Linked DNA regions of Homo sapiens. The protein of the gene in region 4 purifies or fractionates together with the protein of the main gene of each other region. This does not show direct contact. Each region holds a gene or a part of one and is shown on either strand. Other genes may lie near its edges.

Region 1 (3,500 bases), on a different chromosome or scaffold from region 4:
TGGGAGAAAAGAAGTTGCGAGAAATTATAAAGTGAGTTAGGATGTTGTGCAATGTAGTAGTAGTCTTCATAGCAGCAATAAATCATGGGACCAGTGCTGAGTAAAGTGGTTGTTAGAGACATTCCTTGTTCTGGGCAGCCACGCCCATCTCCCCAGGAGATGACATCATCATCATCATCATCATCATACCAGAAACACTGGGTTATTTCTGTCATGTGGATGGCCTTAGAAGAGCCACATCTCCACAGAGGGAATTACAAGAAACTACAGGAGTTACACTTCTCAGGTTTACTTCCGAGGCTTGAGTACACGTTTAGAGAACGTACCATGAAATTAATGTTGAAAAATCCATGGCTCCAGAGGCTCCATCACCCCCAAAATAGTACATATTTAGAGAATTAATAAAGAATTTTCAAAACATCCCCAAGAAAAAAAAATTATTTTTAATTACTAATCAGGAAAGCCCTGGGTGTAAGTCAGATTTACCACTGACTGGGTGTGTGTCTGAGCAAGTTACCTGTTTCTTCATATGTAAGCTGGAGATTATAATAATTAATAGTAACTGCTTATTAAGGTTGTTGGGAATATTAAGTGAGATAATGAATGAAAAGTGTTCACCTACCATACAATTGTCCTAAAACCTTTTTTTTTTTCCTCTTCAGGCTATTAAAGAAGCATTTAGATACTTTCCTTAAAGGCAAGAGTGGACTGAGGGTATTTTTTCCTCTTTGCGGAAAAGCGGTTGAGATGAAATGGTATGAGCAGATAAACATTAACAGAATTATCTTGCCTTAATGATGAATTCTTTGGGTGATTTAACAGGATGTGAGTTTTAAAACTCCATTTTCAGGAAATACACAGAAATTCCTTATTTTTCTATTAGTGATGGGTATATAATTGGAAATAATATTCTCAAACAGTAAGAAACAACAGAAACAGGTATGAAGTCTTTCTGGATTGAGTTTTGAAATTAAAAAATCAGTTTGGAGCCAATGGGGGGAGAAAAAACAGCCTTCCCTTTTACATTTCCTGGATCCTTGTATGTGGTTCAGTTTTTGTAGGTGGTTTAGGAATTTAGCTAAGTTAATTTTTAGATATTTGAAATGGTGGTGGACAGAGAAATTCAAAATGAATTACAGCTTTTTGGCAGGACAATGTTCATAGTCCACAGTTCAGCTCAACCTTCCCCTCCCACCAGGGAACACAGGAGTTTCTGTTATCGTGAATCATTGTTATAAAACCAGTGATTAAGAAAGTATTTCTTGTGAGTAATTCTCTACAAAGAGAATTCACTTTAACAAGCCACTTTTACTATGAGTTACCCTAAAGTCACCTCGACATCATTCTCTATACTGAACTCTCTTGTAATGATAATATACAGATACAATCATACCTGCCAAGATATGCATTTATTTATAAGCTTGAATGTTGAGAACTTTGACCACTGAGCAGGAAAGAAAAAAGAATGTATGAAAAGGTTAGTAAATGCGCCAGGTGTGGTGGCCTCCGCCTGTAATCCCAGCACTTTGGGAGGCCAAGACAGAAGGATCTCTTGAGCCCAGGAATTTGAGACCAGTCTGGACAACATAGACCCTGCCTCAAAAAATAAATTTAAAATAAAATATTAATAAATGTAAAATATAATAACCTAAAAAATGGTCTATTCTGAATATAAATATCGGTGACTAACGCAGAGTATGCATGCATTTTTTGGGAGTTGATTTTCAAGTAGAGATGATAGAATTTTTGCAGCCAGCAACCAATCAACTGTAGCTGAGAGCCTTTGTTAGAGGGCTGCTATGACTTTAAGATTCAAGTGTGGTCATGAAATTGAGAATATTTAAACTATATTATGACATATATTTTAACCAATTCATTGAGCCAGAAGAGATAGTTACTTTCAAAATTACCCTCAAAAAAAATTAACTCTATAAACAGATTGTCATGTGATGTCACCATAAATGGTAACAATGTAGTACAAACAGGTTCTGAGGCAACATTAGGAAAATGGTATGAAATAGCCAATTAAATGTGATTGTTGAATATTTGGGGTCTAAAGCCATTTGTAATAAAGACATTACAAAAAATATCAGAACTGGCCAGGTGCGGTGGCTCACACCTTTAATTAGGTGAGCGGATCACTTGAGGTCAGGAGTTCGAGACCAGCCTGGCCAACATGGTGAAAACCCATCTCTACTAAAAATACAAAAATTAGCCAGGCATGGCAGCGTACGCTTGTAATCCCAACTACCTGAGAAGCTGAAGCAGGAGAATTGCTTGAATCCAGGAGGCGGAGGTTGCAATGAGCCCATGCACTCCAGCCTAGGTGACAGAGTGAGACTCTGTCTCCAAAAAATATATATATATGTATATATACGTAAATACAGTTATTTTTATGTATATATATATATGAACTGAGCTACTGTAATTACATGTAAGAAGTTAAGAAGTTATGATAGTAGATGATTTTTCATTTATGTAACTGATCTATGTATTGAGGTCTATACAGACATGAGATGTGAATAGAAAAACTGACCATGAGCTAAGGCCAAAAAGCATTAAAACAAAATGTTTAAGATATTTAGGTTTAGGTTTTTGGTTTTTTGAGACAGTCCCACTCTGTCACCCAGGGTGGAGTGCAGTGGCATGATCATAGCTCACTGCAACCTTGAACTCCTGGGCTCAAGAGATCCTCCCTCCCAACATGCTGGGATAACAGGCATAAGCCACCACACTTGGTCTTATTTTGTTTTTATTACAGGTTGTAGTAGGCTATGCTTCATTTTTCCATCTGTTGAATGGGAAATAAAAACACATACAGCCAATTTGAATAATGTTTTTGTTTACATTTTATAACTTAAAAAATGTAGGGAGAATTTTTAAACTCCCTGTATGTTTACAGATATCCTAAGAAATACGAAAGATGAAAGACAAGTTATATGTTTCATTTTACAACTAAACAGTTCATGCTCTGCCCACATTGAAAGTACGTACTCTTTTGTAGATAAAAGGTACAGTCAGTCCTGCTATACTTGTTTCAAAACTGAATTCTAACTCAATTGATATATTAGGGAAAAATTTGAGCATGAAATAAATTTCACATTTGCTTGTGTGTGATTTCATCTATAAGAAGCCTTAGGTAAAAGCAGAAAACTGCACCCAGTTGAACTAAACCAGGTATGAATAGATGGAATGCACCAACATCCCCCAGCTACCTTAGTGAGCATTAGGTCTTTTTCACCGTAAAGTGCCATATTGTAGTATTTATCTATTTCTCAACCATTTAACATGTATAAAACTGTTATTATTAGGTTCCTGTTTTTGTTTTTTAATGTGGCACTGACCAAGTTTTTAAATGCTGTGCCCTCACTTTCCCCACCAGCCTGGGGATTTTTAGTGCGTGATTTAGCATAGTGCAGTGATTTTAGGAAGGCACTTGTTACATTATAGCAGAACTATGTTTTTATTTCACTTGACATAAAATCATAACTGTGCCTAGA
Region 2 (2,748 bases), on a different chromosome or scaffold from region 4:
CAGAGATAGAGGCACGGCTGGCTGCCCTAAAGGATGAACGTCAGGGTTCCATCCCTTCCACCCAGGAAATGGAGGCACGACTTGCAGCGTTGCAGGGCAGAGTTCTACCTTCTCAAACCCCCCAGCCGGTGAGTGTTATGGCTTAGGAGAGAAGCGGGGGTGCTAGCGGGAGGACCCAGCAGAAGCCCAGATACAGGTATTGGGGTGATACAAAAGTAATTGTGGTTTTTGTCATTACTTTTAATTGCAAAAACCTCAGTTACTTTTGCACCAACCTTTGTACTTTATGTACTTTGCAGGAGTTGGCAAAGCCTCCCACCCCTACCTCCTGATCCTCAGGCCTGCTACCAGACCCGGGGACCAGGGACAAACAGCACGATAGGGTAGGGCAGGAAAAAGTGGCCCCTCAGTCCTGTTGGGGACGGCCAGACCTACTTGATTATGTGGGCCCTGGATCCCTCTCCTTTCCCTGGGCTTTGAGAACTACTTAGCATCCATCCCTGACCTAGACTGCTTCTGGGCTACCCCTGCTCTCCACTGAGGTTTCCTCGTCTGTGCAGGCACATCACACACCGGACACCAGGACCCAAGCCCAGCAGACACAGGATCTGCTAACGCAGCTGGCAGCTGAGGTGGCTATCGATGAAAGCTGGAAAGGAGGAGGCCCAGGTAACCCCTCCACTTGGCTCCCTAGGAATCTGCCCTACCTCTTTCCCCAGACTGGAGAGGCTCTGCTGTCCACCCTCTGGGAGATGAATATAAATCGGAGAGTGATCAACGTTATAAGAGTTACCATTCATTGAGTGCTTACTCCAAAGGGAGCCAGTGTAAGCCTAGTGTTTAAGTGCACGGGCTTTAGAATCAGACAGTGATTCCCATTTCTACCACGTATTAGCTGTGTGATGCTGGACAAGTTACTTGACCTAAGTCTCACTTTCCTCATGTGTAAAATGAAGGTATGTATGGAAAAACCTACCTCACAGGGAAATCAGGAGGAGTAAACGAGATAATCCAATAAGTGCTTGGGAACATACCTGACTCATAGTGAGTACTCAGTGAATATTCTCTGCAATCATGATGTTGATAAGGAGGAAGAAGCTATTTAGTAAAACCAGCCACATCTCAATGCTCAGTAGCCATATGGGCTTCATGGCTACCATCTTGGACAGCACAGATATAGAACATGATATGGAATGTTTCCATCATCATAGAACATTCTGTTGGACAGTGCTGTTTGAAGGCTTCAGAGCAGTGGTTTTCAACAAAGGATGATTTTGCCCCCAGGCTACTTGTGGCAACATTTAGAGACTTTTTGGTTGTCACAACCCAGAGGATATTACTGGCACCTACAGGATAGAAGCCAGGGATGCTACTAAATCTACTATGTCACAGGACAGCACATCATGATGAAGAATTACCCGGTCCAAAGTGTCAAGAGAACTAAGATTGAGAAGTCCTGCTTTAGAGGCACAATCTCATTGAATATCCTCAATAATCTTATGAGGCCAGGTGTGGCTCACGCCTGTAATCCTAAGCACTTAAGGAGGCAGAGGCAGGAGGGAGGATAGCTTGAGCTGGGGAATTTAAGACCTGCCTGGGCAACATAGCAAGACTCTGTTTAAAAAAAAAATCTTATAAGGTACATACTATTCTTTTTTATAAATGAGGAAACAGGCCTGGTGAGCTTGAGGAACTTGACCAAGGTCACACAGCTATTAAGCTGCAGAGATGAGACTTAAACCTAAAGCTGTGATTTTAAACCTCTTGCTCTGAAACACTAAACTGAAGGTGACTGTGTCAGAGCCACACCTAATCTGGTAAAATTCTTCCTGCCCAGTGATATACAAGCTCTTAGCTTCCTTCATTGCCCTCTCTGTGCTAATCCCAGGAGATGCTAATTCCTGCCCTGAAAGGCAAAGAGATCGGCTGAACCTGGGCCTTATCATGTCTTGATCCTTTAGGGCAGTGATTCTCAAACCATAGGACGCCCACCCTTAGGGCAGAATGTTAAAATATCAGGTAGATGGGGATGGATGTGGTTGGAAAAGACATGGGTAAAATTATTAGTTTTTTACATTTGGAAAAATGGAGGAATACTAATTTTATTTGTGATAGAAACCATAGGCGCTAGTGCTGAGCAAAAAGCTGATGATCTGTGATTAGAAAGGGTTGAGAAAAGCTGGGCATGATGGCTCACGCCTGTAATCCCAGCACTTTGGGAGGCTGAGGCGGGTGGATCACGAGGTCAGGAGTTGGAGACCAGCCTGACCAACATGTTGAAACCCCGTCTCTACTAAAAATACAAAAATTAGCCGGGCATGGTGTCACGTGCCTGTAATCCCAGTTACTCAGGAGGCTGAGGCAGGAGAATCGCTTGAATCCAGGAGGCAGAGGTTGCAGTGAGCTGAGATTGCACCACTGCACTCCGGCCTGGGTGACAGAGCGAGACTCCATCTCAAAAAAAAAAAAAAAGAAAGAAAGAAAGAAAGAAAGAAAGAAAGAAAAAATTATTAAAGAAAAAGAAAAGAAAAGGTTGAGAAATGGGCTCATTGGCTTCTGAGGAGAGATACTGGGATGTCTCGGCCTTGCTGATGGCATTACCCCTTCCAGCTGCCTCTCTCCAGAATGATCTCAACCAGGGTGGCCCAGGGAGCACTAATTCCAAGAGGCAGGCCAACTGGTCCTTGGAGGAGGAGAAGAGCAGACTGCTGGCTGAGGCAGCACTTGAGTTGCGGGAGGAGAACACGA
Region 3 (3,500 bases), on a different chromosome or scaffold from region 4:
TGCTTCGCTACTGCGCCACATTTTAATTTTAGTAAATCCTTCTGACTCCACATTCAAAGTATCTTCAGAATCTAACAGATTTCCCTGGCTTCCTCTGCCTCCACCCACGACTAAGCTATCTTCCCCCACCTGACTTATTGCCCCCAGACTCCCGAAAACCAAACAGGTCTCCTTGCTTTCACCCTTGTTGCCCTGGGGGTCTGTTCACAACACTCGCTGGAGTGGCTGAAACACAAGACAGGCCTCTAGTGGCTTCCCACCTCGGTGAAAGCCAGAGTCCTTACCGTGGCCTCGGCTCCAGCGTTCTTGCCTCCTTGCTGCTTCTTGAACATGCCACACATCTGTCTTGGTACCTGCTAGTTATTGCCTTTGCCTGGACATTTTCTCAGATAGCTGCAAGTCTTGCTCCCTGTCTTCTCTTTGGTTTTTCTTTTTTAATTTGAGGTGGAGGCTTACTGTCGCCCAAGCTGGAGTGCGGTGGCGTGATCTTGGGTCACTGCAACCTCCACCTGCCGGGTTCAGGCAAATCTCCTGCCTCAGCCTCCCGAGTAGTGGGGACTACAGGTACGTGCCAATTCACCTGGCTAATTTTTGTATTTTTTAGTAGGTAACGGGGTTTCGCCGTGTTGGCCAGGCTGATCTTGAACTCCCAACCTCAAGTGATCTGCTCGCTCGCCTTGGCCTCCCAAAGTCCTGGGATACAGGCGTGAGCCACCACACTAGGCCTTTCCCTTTGGTTTATACTTAGATGTAGTCACCTTAGTAGAGGGGTGTCCCCGGAATAGAATTTTCCATCCCCGGCCTTCTGTCTTTCTCATTGCTGACAATAAGTAGGAAGCAAGCTAACAAGCAGCAGGCTACGGCTGCCTACAAGTGTACATAGGTATCTGCCTGTCCCCCTAACTGGGCATCAGCTCCAGGCCAGCAGGGCTTTCCCCTCTCTTTCAGTCACTGCCGTGTCCTCGCCTAAGAGAGTGTCTGGCACACAGTAGGTGCTCAGTGAGTTACTCATTGATTAAAAAGCCTGGAAAACCAGGCTGTGTCGTGAAGATAATAGGCAGCCACTGAGGTCTTACTGCATGAGAACAAGGAAAGCTCAGCTCAGTGTAGATTGCCGGACCTAAATTTTGTGGAATCGCCTTTCATACCTAAGAGGCGAGCACCGTTGCCAGCTTTGCACTTGGAGCCCCCTCTGTCATTTATTTTGTTGACTTAAAAGCTGTTTTGTGAACCCAGCATAATGGCACTTCTTAAACTTGTAGAAAAAGGGTGTTTCTTACCTGTTTATTTCAACACATCTCGTTGCCTCACCTGGAGAGGCAACTCTCCTCTGTAGAGTGAAAGACTATAATGGTGGCCATGTAGAAACTAATATTCCAGAAGGAGAGAGCTCCAAGAAGGGGATTCCAGTGAACCATATGTACACTGTGTTTGAGAGACATTAGTTCCCCACGGAGAAGGGATGGATAGTCTGTGCTTCGGGGGTCTAAGGAAGGCTTCCTGCAGGTGCTGGTACCTCCTTAGGTCTGGGGTGGTTCCTTCTAAGTTTCCTTACCCTGCCTGCATCACCTCTGCCTCTTATGACCTCTGTGCAAAGACTGGGAAGGGTCACCCCCAATGGCTGTGAACGAACCTGTTTGTGATTCTAAACAGGGCACGGGACCATCCTACAATAAAAATTACCCAGCCTAAAATGCCAGTAGTGCCAGTAGTCCCTGTTTAGAAAAAGAAAAAAAAAAAGCAACTTTTGCCTCACAACAGAGGCCCTCTTGTGTGCTGCCAGGCAGCCAGCAGATTTGCTATGCAGGCAAGTTTGGGGCCTGGTTTTTAAAGTATCCAGTTCCTAGATTCCAGAACTAAAATACACATTTGGAAAAATGATGTCTATAAAATTGAGTTTCCGGGAGTGCAAGGTTTATAGCAATTTGACACTGCTGGGAACCCAGGCGCAGTATCAGTGGACTTTTCTCCTTGAACAGGGGGCAGACCAAGTGGGGGGTTGGGGAGGGTATTGGGCTCACTCTTGGTTTCCCTTGGTGTGAGCTGCCACCATTCACATGCAGAGGACTCACCTGTGTTTCCTGCGGGTTGGGGGTAATGGTGGCATGACAGAGGGCTTGAGGACTGACCTAGCTGCTTCTCCGGAATTGGACGCCTGCTGACTACCTGCGTGTATCCAGATGGCCATTGGCCTGTGGGGGTGCAGGATGGAGGCCCTGCCCACATGGAGCTCACTGTCCTGGGTGGGAGTGAAATAAACTCTAGGTGGCAGAAGGAAGTGGTGCGTTGGATTATCACCTGGGTGCAAACGAGCTGGCAGCAGCGCCTGCCAGGTGCAGAGCCAGGAACCTCTAGGCCTTCAGTCTGACCACCTGATGGCAGGGGAAGCAGAGGGTGGTGGGGGGCCTTCATCTCAGGAGAATCTGAGTGGCTGCAGGTGCCAGTCAGGACGCTGGGCTTCTGCAGATGGGACCACATCTGGGAGGACCGAAGGGCCGGGTGCTTATGGGCTGTTACTGTGGCACTGAGCGTGAGGGGAGTGGACAGGACCCAGGCTGAGAAGTGCTGGTGTGCAGTGGTGGCAGGTGGCTCACACAGCCCTACCATAGCGCAGCCCTGCTCTGAAGGCCACTGGAGCCATTCAGAGGTCTCACAGACAAGTAATCAGATCCAGCCTACGGTAAGGAGAAGTTCTGTATCTGAGATCTGAGGCAGGGAAGCCAATTAGGAAGCTGCTCAAAGATGAAGGCGGCGTCAGCGCAGGTTCCGTTGCGTGGTGCAGCCATCTCTGGCTCTCACGTTTCCCACACATGTTCACTAAGCCCCTGTCTTGGCAAGCCATACCCTAAGCCACAGAGGACCAGGATTAAAATCAGTGATTTTCAGGGAGGGGTAATTTCCCCCACCTCATTCCCCTGAGGGATATCTGGCAACGTTTGCAGACATTTTTGTGCCACTGGTATCTGAAGTCAGGGTTGTGGCCAAACATCCGACAAGGTACATGGCCGTCCTTCCACAAAGAACTGTCCAGCCCCAAATGCCAGGGGTACCAAGGTTGAAAACTCTGGTAAAGAACCTTCGAAGGCACCAGGTTAAGTGCTTCAAAAGAACAATGCCCTGGGTGCTCTGGGAATGTGAGGGAGGAGCCAGCTGTGCCACAGAGCGGGGACAGCTGCTGGAGAAGTGCCACATTTGAGTTGGGTCTTGAAGGATGAATAAGAGTTCTCCAGGAGGAGCGTTGAGACACACGGCAGAGGTGGGGAGAAACCAGGCAGGAAACAGCATGTGTACCTGGGTCCTCTCAGCCCCACTGTGGCCTCCTGTGTGTTGCTTTTGGTACATTTCTTGCCCTGTTGGAGGTAACGGGAGGGATACTGAAGCCATCTTTGAGGTAAGAGAAGAGGTTTAGCCTCATGCGTAAGACTACTGGAGAGATGGCCTTGCCCAAGAGTAGTTGGAGATGCTTCTTTGGAGAGTGACCTCCACCTTCTGCAAGGCCC
Region 4 (3,213 bases):
CTTAATGCTTCTGAATTGCACACAAAAATGGCAAGTTTAATATTATGTGTACTTTATCACAATGAAAAAAGCTGCTGCGTGGGCCAAGTTACTTGTGCAGGTAAGTGTTCTGCAGGTCGTTGCCTGCACCTCAGTTGTAGGGTGTCCGTAGGATGTGAGGCCAGTCCCCGGGCTTAATGATGCTTTAAATCCTGCCTAGTATTCAATTATTTCTTGTCGCTTAAAAGGCCTAATAAAATTATGGTTTTAGTTTACAGTGGTATGAATGCTTAGCTGTTGGATTTTAGTAGGAAAGTTTGTCCCTTTTTGTTTTTAATTTTGTTTTACAGATTCACAGGAATTTTTTTTTTTTTTTTTTTAATGCACAGAAAGTTTCCCTGGACACACTACCCAGTTTCCCCCAGTGATAATATCTTGGGTAACATCCTGTATACATTCACATTGGTGCATTCCTCAGAGTTGTCAGATTTTGCTAGTTTTACGTGCACTTGTGTATGTGTGTATTTGCAATTTTAGCACGTGTAGACTCTTGTAACCACTACAATCAAGTTACAGAACTACACTACCAAGGTTCATCTTTTTAAAATCTTTGATGTTACCTTTTTCGGAACAGTGACCATGAGAGGACTTTCCTCCCAAAATTTTGAGAACTACTGAACCAGAATATAGTCTGACACTAATAGGTAGAAATTTAACCAAAGGAGATTATGAAGCTCTGCACTTCAGTTAACAAATCACTTCTCAGCTTCCAGTTCCATCTCAGAAGGAAGGAAAGGGATTAAAATCCAGAGACCAGAAATGGGAGCAAAGTACAAGGTGGTGTAATCATTACAGAGGTTTCCTGATGTTTCCAAGTCAGTCGTGTGTTGAGCTGCTAAACTCTAAAGTAATTTTAGGTGGAAGTGTTGGAAACATGCTGCTGAGGTGATAGAAAGGAATCCATGGTCCTCTGTTAGTTGGAAAGTATATGGAATACTATATTCTACATAAGATACAACACTCTCTGTGAGACAAGGATAAAGTAGATTTTGTCAGTGAAATTGTGACAAGAATCGCTGATGGGTTTAGAGCCTAAGTTTGCGAGGAGCACTGGAAGAAATTAAGATTGTTGAGATTGGAAAGGGTTAGCTATGGGGGGAACAGGAGGAGGTGACTCCATGACAGACCAAATATTCAAAGGACTGTGTAGAAGAGGAAAAAGACTTTGTTAGGGCTCCAGAGGACAGAGCCAGGAGTCAGACAGGGCCTTGAACTCAACCCACCGAGATCTGCAAACTTTGCAGGATGCACCAGATGTCTTGTAGCCATGGGTCAAGGGGGGACCCTGGGTAAGAGACTGTAATAGATGACCTCTAAGGCCATCTCATGACATGTGTGATTAATGTATGTACCTGTCCTCTCTTTTTGACAATTCTACAGATTATTCAGGACAGGGAGTTGACCAACTGCAAAGAGTGATTGACACCATCAAAACCAACCCTGACGACAGAAGAATCATCATGTGCGCTTGGAATCCAAGAGGTTGAAAGAACCCCGTCGTCTTCATTTATACTAACCATACTCTTAGAGGGAAGCAATCTGGTTTTGTGCAGAGGCACCTGAGGGAGGCAGGACCCTGGGAACTTCCCCCAGCCACATGGTTGATTGTGTGACGTTGGGCAAGTCACATTTTGCTGCACTTTCACCTTCAGATCATGAGGTTGGGCCCAGAGGATTTTTTTTTTTTTTTTTTTTTTTTGAGACAGAGTTTTGCTCTGTTGCCCAGGCTGGAATGCAACGGCGTGATCTTGGCTCACTGTAACCTCTGCCTCCTGGGTTCGAGTGATTCTCCTGCCTCAGCCTCCCAAGTAGCTGGGATTACAGGCATGTGCCACCATGCCCGGCTAATTTTGTATTTTTAGTAGAGACGGGGTTTCACCATGTTGGTCAGGCTGGTCTTGAACTCCTGACCTCAGATGATCTGCCTGCCTCAGCCTCCCAACCAGATGATCTTAATTTGTGTATTTATACTCATTCTTACACCAAAAAGGGTTTTAAATTGCCTAGAAACTACATGTAAGATGTTAACATTTTAAATGGAAGCAGATGAAGTTCCAGCTCGCTGCCACCTCACTAACATTTTTAACAATTATATTGTAAAATTCAACTCTACCAGGGTGTAGAGCCAGGTGTGGTGGCTCACACCTGTAATTCCAACAACTCCAGAGGCCAAGGCGAGAGGATCATTTGAACCCAGGAATTTGAGGCTGTAGTGAGTCATGATCACGCCATTGCACTCCAGCCTGGGCAACAGAGTGAGACCCTGAATATTTAAAAACAACAACAACAACAAAACTCTATCAGGATATCATAAGTACTTAGAGTGAAATACTTGCATCTGTAATAGAGACTTATTTTTTTTTTTTTTTTGAGACACAGTCTCACCCTGTTGCCCAGGCTGGAGTGCAGTGGTGTGATCTCCGCTCACGGCAACCTCCATCTCCCAGGTTCAAGTGAGTTCCCATTCCTCAGCCCCAGAGCTGGGACCACAGGCGCGCGAATTTTTGTATTTTTAGCAGAGACGGGGTTTCACTATGTTGGCCAGGCTAGTCTCGAACTCAAGTTGGCCTCAAGTGATCTGCCCACCCTGGCGTCCCAGTGTTGGGATTTCAGGCATGAGCCACTGTGCCTGGCCATGTAATAGAGACTTTTAATATAGGAGGGTGTACCAGAAGCACCAGTTTCCTGTGGCAAACAGAATTATTCCTGCTGTATTTGTAATCTGGTGCCACGAGGTAGCCCAGATCCCTTCAGCTCTGATGGAAGAGCATTGCTTCAGCCGTAAATGGACACCTGCAGAAACCTTGCACCGATGGATAGTCTCCCTCAGCTCCGTGCCATCGCTGCAGAGGCTGTTATGGACATCACTGCAGCCCAGTGGCTCTCTCTCCTGGTCTCCACCATATGAGTTGGCTTCTGTTTCTCTCCTGTTTTACTTTGCCTTTAGCTGTGGTCTTTCAAACCACCATCCCTCCTTATCTTCCTCTGCTGGTTCCTCAGATCTTCCTCTGATGGCGCTGCCTCCATGCCATGCCCTCTGCCAGTTCTATGTGGTGAACAGTGAGCTGTCCTGCCAGCTGTACCAGAGATCGGGAGACATGGGCCTCGGTGTGCCTTTCAACATCGCCAGCTACGCCCTGCTCACGTACATGATTGCGCACATCACGGGCCTGA
Region 5 (3,992 bases), about 63 Mb from region 4:
AAATGCCTACGTCATGATATGAACTGAAGTGAATGACACAGGCATTGTGACATAGTGTTTCAAAATTATGAACTATTTATTCTAGAATATTTCATTTAAAATTTTTGGACCCAGGTTAACTTCGGGTTATTGAAACTGTGGAAAGTAAAACCACAGGGAAGTGGAGAATACTGTGCAGCTTTATTACATTATATAATTTTGATTTTTAGTTATCTGCATTCCCTCATTAGATTATAAGCATCTGGCCACAGAGATTTTTGCCTTGTTCAGCAGGAAGTTAATCACTACATGAATATTAATCCAAATTTCCTAGGTTAGAAGGTTGAAAAGGTTGAATGAGAAAGCACACATGTGAACCTACCACTAACAAAATTACAATTCAAGATCCTTCCTGCTTAAGAGTAACAATTATGCCTTTCATGTTGGTCAGTCTCTGGCTGATTCACTGAAGAACAGCCAACAGTCCAATTCAAGTATGATGCATTCTGGGGCCGGGCACGGTGGCTCACACCTGTAACCCAGCACTTTGGGAGGCTAAGGCGGGCGGATCACTTGAGGTCAGGAGTTCAAGACCAGCGTGGCCAACATGGTGAAACCCTGTCTCTACTAAAAATAGAAAAAATTAGCCAGGCGTGGTGGCAGGCACCTGTAATCCCAGCTACTCGGGAGGCTGAGGCACAAGAATCACTTGAACCTGGGAGGTGGAGGTTGCAGTGCGCCAAGATCACGCCACTGCACTCCAGTCTGGGCAACAGAGCAAGACTGTCTCAAAACAACAACAACAAAAACCTGCAAATGATGAAGATTATGTTGTAGAGTATCGAAATCACATGCAAAGTCTCTGACAAATGAAAAGCTGGTGGAATAAAAATTGTTAAAAAGCCAACGATGACAAGATGGGCACTTCAGAAGAGTCACCTTTAATACTCAAGGGAAAAATACTTTTACCAAATGACCAACGCTTTTTCCAAATACGTTTACCAAAAAGAACCTTTCCAAATAGGACTACAAAAAGCTACAAAAAACTCAAGTGAAGATTGCTGAATCTTAGTTTAATACAACCTTGGTGAAAAAGATAGTCATCCGGGCACGGTGACTCACGCCTGTAATCCCAGCACTTTGGGAGGCTGAGGTAGGCGGATCACCTGAGGTCAAGAGGCCAGCCTGGGCCAACATGGTGAAACCTCATCTCTACTACTAAAAATACAAAAATTAGCTGGGCGTGGTGGTGGGTGCCTGTAGTCCCAGGTACTCAGGAGGCTGAGGCAAGAGAATCGCTTGAACCTGGGAGGTGGAGGTTGTAGTGAGCTGAAATCACGCCACTGCACTCAAGCCTGGGCGACCGTGCAAGACTCCGTCTCAAAAAAAAAAAAAAAAAGAAAGAAAAGAAAAGGAAAAAAACACAGACAAATCAACACTTGACTTATTCCACAAAATGAGTCATTGTTGCAATTATACAATTATAATATTTTGTGAAAGATAACAATTATTTTAATAATCTTCTAGGTCGATTTTCAAGATGAAAGTCCCAAGCAAGCCTCCTTTCCCACTCTTTTTGTGTATGTGTGTGTGAAATTTTAATCTCTGTTTAAGTGGGTCTACTTTGAGTGGTCTTTCTTCAGAATCAATTATCATGGGTTAAGGAGTTCTTCCATTACCTTTGATGCCTCTGTCAGGCACTCCAATAACTGCTTGTTCAACAAACTACCGGAAGTCCACGACGGGGACTCAATACAAGTATTTTAGGCTACTCTTTTGTGCCTTATTGACTTACTGGACTGGGAGTCCTCTACATTAAGCCACATTACATTCTAAACGCCACTGAAGCCCTAGATCCATTCTGGGGATGGGAGACACCATTACATTAAGAAATTTCTTTTCTGAACGAATTCCATTCCACAGAGGACTAACGATTAAGCCTAAAATCTTAAGATTCCATGATTTGTGTACAAAACACTGTGCTCATTGCGGTAGAGGAGGGGAAGTGGAGCCACACAGAGGTTTAAGAATACTCCTCGATCTTACACACTACCATCTGGGAGCCACAGGAGTGTGCACATAAATTCAATGACTTCACGGAGATTGCATGCAGGCTGGCTGTAATCTCAGATTCTTGGTCTGTTCCCATATCTCTACTCACCTGACAGCTCAGAATGAAGGGGTCTGCTGTCAGCTTGAGAAACTAAGACCGAACTATGACCACCCTATCTTCAACTGGTCCAGAATAGGGCTTTGCAAAAATTACGTTCTTTCTTTCTCCGTTAACCCTGATTGGAGAAACCTGCCCAGATCTTGGCTGGTTTGGAAGCGGGAAGTGTCAACAAAAGTGAAGAGTCTCACAAAGCCAGTAGCTCGGGAGACCCCAAGAGCGGGCCAGAAACGACCTTTCCGTTGGAAAACGGGCCCCTCTCCCACCTGCTGCAGGTCCCCGGACCCGCCCTCCTGCGCCTCGACCACAGGCGCGGCCGCTTCCTCCCTTCTCCCCGCCCCCCACCCGCTTCTCGCGCCTCCCCTCGATCCCAGCTCCCTAGGGGGACGGGAGATGAGCAATGATACCTGGAGGTTGGGCGAAGTGGATGACATGGCGGAGTTCCCAGGCGGTTCCCAAGGGAACGAGGGGCGAGGAGAGCCAACAGCAGCAACGTCGAAGCGCGCACGGGGTAACAGCCCTCAAACTGGGGAGGCCGGTGGTTCTCGGACCGCGAAGGGCAGCCTCCCTTCCGGAACTTGTTTTAGACAACACTCTCTCCACCAGAGCTCCGACCCTCCCCACCAAACTTCCGCAATCCCGAGGCCCTCTAGGTTCTGGTCCCGCCTCTGCTCCGGGCACTTCCGATTTCGTCATCAGCACGCGCACCCAGTCACCAGACTCCCTTCTCTAGCCACAGCGCAGGCCCTCCCTGGGCCGGGAGAAGTAGCCTGGAAGCCAATCGAGCCCTGGCGGAAGTCGGGCTCGGCGCAGGCGCACTGAGACTCTGGCCTAGGCGCGGGCGGCAGCCTGGCAGACCTAGGAGAGCGCAAGCGCGGAAGCACAGAGCCGGGTTTTGTTGTTTGTTTGTTCCCCACCCCCGGGGACGTCTTTTACTTTGAGATGAATTATTGGCCCCGGCTCCCTTCCCTCCTCATCCACATGCTTTGTTGCCTCGTAGCTTTTGAGTGAAAAAGTCGTCCATTTCCAAGACCCGCCGACTGGGGGCTTTGGGCCTGTGACTGCGCCTTCACTCCGTGTCCTCTGTGGAATGGGGGCGATCACCGTCCTCGTCTCGGTGGTGAATAATTCAGGAGGGAGTGCGCGGTGAGGCGGCCGCACAGCGGTGCGCTAGCAGTCAGGCCGCGGGCGGGTCGGCGCTCGTTCCCGCTTGTTCTTCCCACGCCACTCGGCATCTTCCAAATGACTGTTGTGTTGGGAAGATGAATGTAAATAAGGCGTGGACGGCCGCTGTCCTCGAGTATGTGGTCTGAGAGGGAAGCACTTGTCCTGTAAAATGGGCATATCAGATATTATTTATGCCAGTTATGTTTACAAGCAAATGGCTTGAGGAGGTTGAATGCGTCAGGGATTAGAGGCAGAACCAAAGTAAAACCCTTTCTCAGCCTTCCTATGGTTTGCAGCCACCACCACCCTTTTCTTCTTTTCATAGTTAACATTCTCAAAGGAAAGCAACATAGATGTTTAATCACTCCATCATTTTTTTCTCACTCATTTCTTAATTTTTTCTCATCTGGCATCTCCGAAAGAATTAAAGTCCTCTCCTCTTCCCTCTTCATTGGTATTGTCAACTACCCAGTTCTTGTTTGTCCAGCTTCCCAATATTCCTTATCTGCTTCCTTCACTGTCTCCCTTTCTTACTCCTCCCTGAGCTTAAGCTGAATTTACTCAAGAGTCTGATGTCCTCTTCTCTCTTCACCTCTGCTCATCTAACTCTCTTCTTGAGCTTCAGCTATCAATAGACTAGAAATTGCTTCAAATCTGGATCTCTAGACCCACCCCA
Region 6 (3,500 bases), on a different chromosome or scaffold from region 4:
AACCCAGGAAGCAGAGGTTGCAGTGAGCCGAGATCATGCCGCCGCACTCCAGCCTGGGCAACAGGGCGAGACTCTGTCTTAAAAAAAAAAAAAAAAAAAAATTAAAAAAGAATTAAACATTGGAAAATATGTTGTTAAATTAATTTTAATAACATATTTGTATTTAGCCCAACATAAAAGGTTATTTCAATAATCAATATACAAAAATATCAAGACATTTCACCTTTTTTTGTACTAAGTCTATGAGATCTGATAGCATTTTAATGCCTACGGGATATTTCCATTCAGACCAGCCTGTTTCAGGGGCTCAGTAGCCACATGTGGCTTTCGGCTGCCTTGTGGGACAGTGTGGGTCTGGATCCTCAGCATGATACTGTAGGCCGCCACCAGTCTCAGAGACAGAGCTCCAGTTTGTACCTGTTAACACCTCTTTCCACCCCAAGATACTGCCCTGGGTCTCCTTAACCTCTTTCCAGGCTCAGGCCCTATCTCTGAGATGAGAATGGAAAATAAATCGAGGGCCCTGGGCGGGAGAAGCATATTCTTGATGCAGAGGTGGTCCCCGGCCATGGGCATTGGGACCGCCTGGCTGAGACGGCATAAGGAAGTGATTCAGGCTTTGGAGTTGTACAGATCAGCGTTCAAGACCCAGCTCCTCTGTGTTTTAGCTCTGTCACTTTGGTGGGTTTACCTTACCTCTCTGAGCCTCAGTTTTCTTATTTATAAAATGGAGACCATATTACTGGTATCTTCTGGTCACCATGAAGATTCACAATTACTGCAAAGTGCTGGCACAGTGCCTGGCACACAGTAAATGCACAGACATGGTGTTACTAGAGATGTCGTAGGAACCTTCCCTTTATGTGCAGGGGGATTTGTGGTCTCCTTTGGAAGGGACCCAGGAGCATTTTTGGAGGGACAGAGCTGGCTGGGGCCTGCTGACCCCTGCCCCTGACTCTTGCAGAGCCACCCCTGAGTGACGACCTGCAGCCTTCCTCAGCTGTGTCCAGCCCCACCCAGCCAGGTCCTGTCCTGTACATGCCATCTGCCGCCGGAGACTCGGTGCCTGTGAGCCCCTCCAGCCCGCATGCCCCTGACCTCAGTGCCGTACGTGTCCATCCTGGGGAGTGGGTGGGCACCATGCCTGACAGAGCCAATACTTGCCTCCTAGGCCCTTTCAGCCTGGGCTTGGGAGACCATCCTGGTATTTGTCCTCAGGCCAGGGGGATCTGTCTTTTCCATCTCAGCATTCTTCGTCAAAAGTCCAGGCCCGGGGGTGGGGTAGGGCAGTCCCCAGAGCCTGTGCTGATGAGCCTGTAGGACTGGTGGCAGGGACAAAGCCTGAGGTCACTCCCCTTTCCTTCGTGAGCTTCGGGCTCCCCGAGTGGTCACTGCTGCTCGTTGGCAGATGAAAGTGGAACTGAGCCCCTTGAAGACTCCCTCTGGAGAGGGTGGAGGATGGGCCACGCACCAGCCTGCGCTGTGCCCACGGGCCCACTCCCTCCCCTCCTTCTCCGCAGCTCCTCTGTAGAAACAGCAGCCTAGGCAGCCCGTCTAACCTCTGCGGCTCCCCACCGGGCTCCATCAGGAAGCCCCCAAACCTGGAGGGCATCGTCTTCCCTGGGGAGTCTGGCCTGGCCCCTGGCAGCTATAAGAAGGCTCCCGGCTTCGAGAGGGAAGACCAGGTGGGAGCCGAGTACCTGAAAAATTTCAAATGCCAGGTAAGGGATGAGGGAGGCAGCAGTGAGGTTAGCCTTCTCCTGCGTGGGGCAAGAGAATCTTGGAGGAGTGTCTTGGTCCAGCTACGGGGAGGATGACTGGGAGCTAGGACTCCACTGTCCTCGGCCTCTTCAGGACTGAACAGAGGGAGCAGTGTCAGCCCATTTGCAGCTGAAGACAGGAAGGCTGGGGAGGCTGCATAGCCTCCCCTGGGCTGCAGAGCTGGTTAGGAGAGGAGCCAGATCCCGCCTGGGTGCGGTCCTTCGGCTGCCCTGAACTGCCTTCATGGAAAGACAGGGCCTGGGGAAGCAGGACACAGGGGTCCCTAACTGGGCCTGGAGAGATACCTTCTGGGCTTACATGAGGCCTAGTGTCACCGGGAGGAGAAGGGCAGCTCCCTGCTTAGGGTAGGGGAAGGGAGTAGGGGGTGGGGAGGAAGAAGGGGGTGTGTGCATGCATGTGAAGAGGGGTTGCATGTCTGCCACCACCTGCCCCCTGGTACCTGCAGCCTCAGGGTCAGATGGACTCAGGGACCCCCCAGCACCACATTCATCCACTCCCTGAATTTTCTCTCTCAGGCCAAATTAAAACCCCACTCATTAGAGCCCAGGAGTCAAGAGCAGCCTCTGCTTCAGCCCAAACAGGTATAGAGCTCTCAGCCCCCTTCCTCCCCTCTGCTGTGGACAGGAGTGGCCCAGAACCCCAGGAGGCTTCGGGGAGTGGGAGGCACCACTTTTCCCAAAAGCTGAGGGCAGGACTAAAGTGGGGTCCCAGCCACAAATCCAGAGAGGGTAGGGGGTCAGGCCCTGGAGCCCCTCACCTCCTAGACTCAGTGGAGAAGGTGTTCCTGGAGCCTCTGCACTCTGCCAGGCCCTGTACTCGCTTCTCTCTTCCCTGCTACAGGACTGTAGGGGCGAATGGGCCTGGCAGCCTCCGCACCTCCAACTCCATGCTCTCAACAAGGTGTCGGGTGTGCCGGGGCCCATGTGGGCATGGGGGCACCCGGACTAGAGCTAGCACGGGCCATTTCCCTTGCCCCCAGCCCCTCTCCAGCCTCTCGTCCTGGCCTCCGTATGCAGGCCTACCATTGCTTCTCCTCTTCCCTCTCTCGTTGCAGGACATGCTGGGCATCCTCCCCGCAGGCAGCCCCCTGACCTCAAGCATCTCTTCTAGTATCACCTCCAGCCTGGCAGCTACCCCCCCTAGCCCAGTGGGCACCAGCAGCGTCCCCGGCATGAATGCAAACGCTCTGCCCTTCTACCCCACCAGCGACACGGTAGAGTCAGTCATAGGTAACTAGGCCATTTCTGTTTGAAAGCCCAGGACTGGGTCTGGGGTCAGAGACCCCCCAGTCTCTGAAGCGAGTCTCAAATCAGCACACCAGACCCCTTAGACATCTGTCTTCGGAAAATCAGGGGATGGGCACTCTGAGTCCTTTGAGCTAAAGGGGAAATGACCCCAAGGTGTAGGGCCAGGACTGACCCTTAGAGCTCCTTTGTGCAAATTAGAAAGAGGTGCCTTTTCCCCTTGGTGAGTACAGTCTCACCCCAAGACGTGTTGTTCAGTCCCCACTCATCTCACTGGTGTCCTTGTGTAGTGAATGGCCAGCACGACGTTCTCAGAATCCCTGGTGCTAGAAGTTGGTGCTCCTTTCTTTCAGTACTCATTTCTAGGTGCCCGCTTTGTGCCAGGTCCTGTGGCAGGCACTGAGGAGACAGATGACAACATGCTGCTCCTGCCCTCTAGAGGGAAACTTCCCACCCAGTGGACATTTGTCAAGC

What was found.
Region 1: the proteins of TYMS (region 4) and TPMT fractionate together in Homo sapiens (co-fractionation; one large-scale study listed by BioGRID). This does not show direct contact.
Region 2: the proteins of TYMS (region 4) and ZFYVE19 fractionate together in Homo sapiens (co-fractionation; one large-scale study listed by BioGRID). This does not show direct contact.
Region 3: the proteins of TYMS (region 4) and WDR1 fractionate together in Homo sapiens (co-fractionation; one large-scale study listed by BioGRID). This does not show direct contact.
Region 5: the proteins of TYMS (region 4) and VPS4B fractionate together in Homo sapiens (co-fractionation; one large-scale study listed by BioGRID). This does not show direct contact.
Region 6: the proteins of TYMS (region 4) and UNK fractionate together in Homo sapiens (co-fractionation; one large-scale study listed by BioGRID). This does not show direct contact.

Annotation. Positions count from the first base shown.
Region 1 is NC_000006.12:18,145,078-18,148,577, reverse strand, and holds part of TPMT (thiopurine S-methyltransferase), read left to right. Parts: intron 1-662; coding exon 663-755; intron 756-3,500. UniProt on the Homo sapiens protein: Catalyzes the S-methylation of thiopurine drugs such as 6-mercaptopurine (also called mercaptopurine, 6-MP or its brand name Purinethol) and 6-thioguanine (also called tioguanine or 6-TG) using S-adenosyl-L-methionine as the methyl donor.
Region 2 is NC_000015.10:40,810,089-40,812,836, forward strand, and holds part of ZFYVE19 (abscission/NoCut checkpoint regulator), read left to right. Parts: coding exon 1-128; intron 129-299; coding exon of another isoform or gene 300-382; exon of another isoform or gene 383-383; intron 384-560; coding exon 561-669; intron 670-2,610; coding exon 2,611-2,748. UniProt on the Homo sapiens protein: Key regulator of abscission step in cytokinesis: part of the cytokinesis checkpoint, a process required to delay abscission to prevent both premature resolution of intercellular chromosome bridges and accumulation of DNA damage.
Region 3 is NC_000004.12:10,110,300-10,113,799, reverse strand, and holds part of WDR1 (WD repeat-containing protein 1), read left to right. Parts: intron 1-3,500.
Region 4 is NC_000018.10:667,653-670,865, forward strand, and holds part of TYMS (thymidylate synthase), read left to right. Parts: exon of another isoform or gene 1-27; coding exon of another isoform or gene 28-100; intron 101-1,419; coding exon 1,420-1,521; intron 1,522-2,665; exon of another isoform or gene 2,666-3,039; coding exon 3,040-3,213. UniProt on the Homo sapiens protein: Catalyzes the reductive methylation of 2'-deoxyuridine 5'-monophosphate (dUMP) to thymidine 5'-monophosphate (dTMP), using the cosubstrate, 5,10- methylenetetrahydrofolate (CH2H4folate) as a 1-carbon donor and reductant and contributes to the de novo mitochondrial thymidylate biosynthesis pathway.
Region 5 is NC_000018.10:63,419,677-63,423,668, forward strand, and holds the start of VPS4B (vacuolar protein sorting-associated protein 4B), read right to left. Parts: upstream 2,801-3,992; 5' UTR 2,584-2,800; coding exon 2,557-2,583; intron 1-2,556.
Region 6 is NC_000017.11:75,815,806-75,819,305, forward strand, and holds part of UNK (RING finger protein unkempt homolog), read left to right. Parts: intron 1-964; coding exon 965-1,107; intron 1,108-1,520; coding exon 1,521-1,721; intron 1,722-2,297; coding exon 2,298-2,363; intron 2,364-2,836; coding exon 2,837-3,011; intron 3,012-3,500. UniProt on the Homo sapiens protein: Sequence-specific RNA-binding protein which plays an important role in the establishment and maintenance of the early morphology of cortical neurons during embryonic development.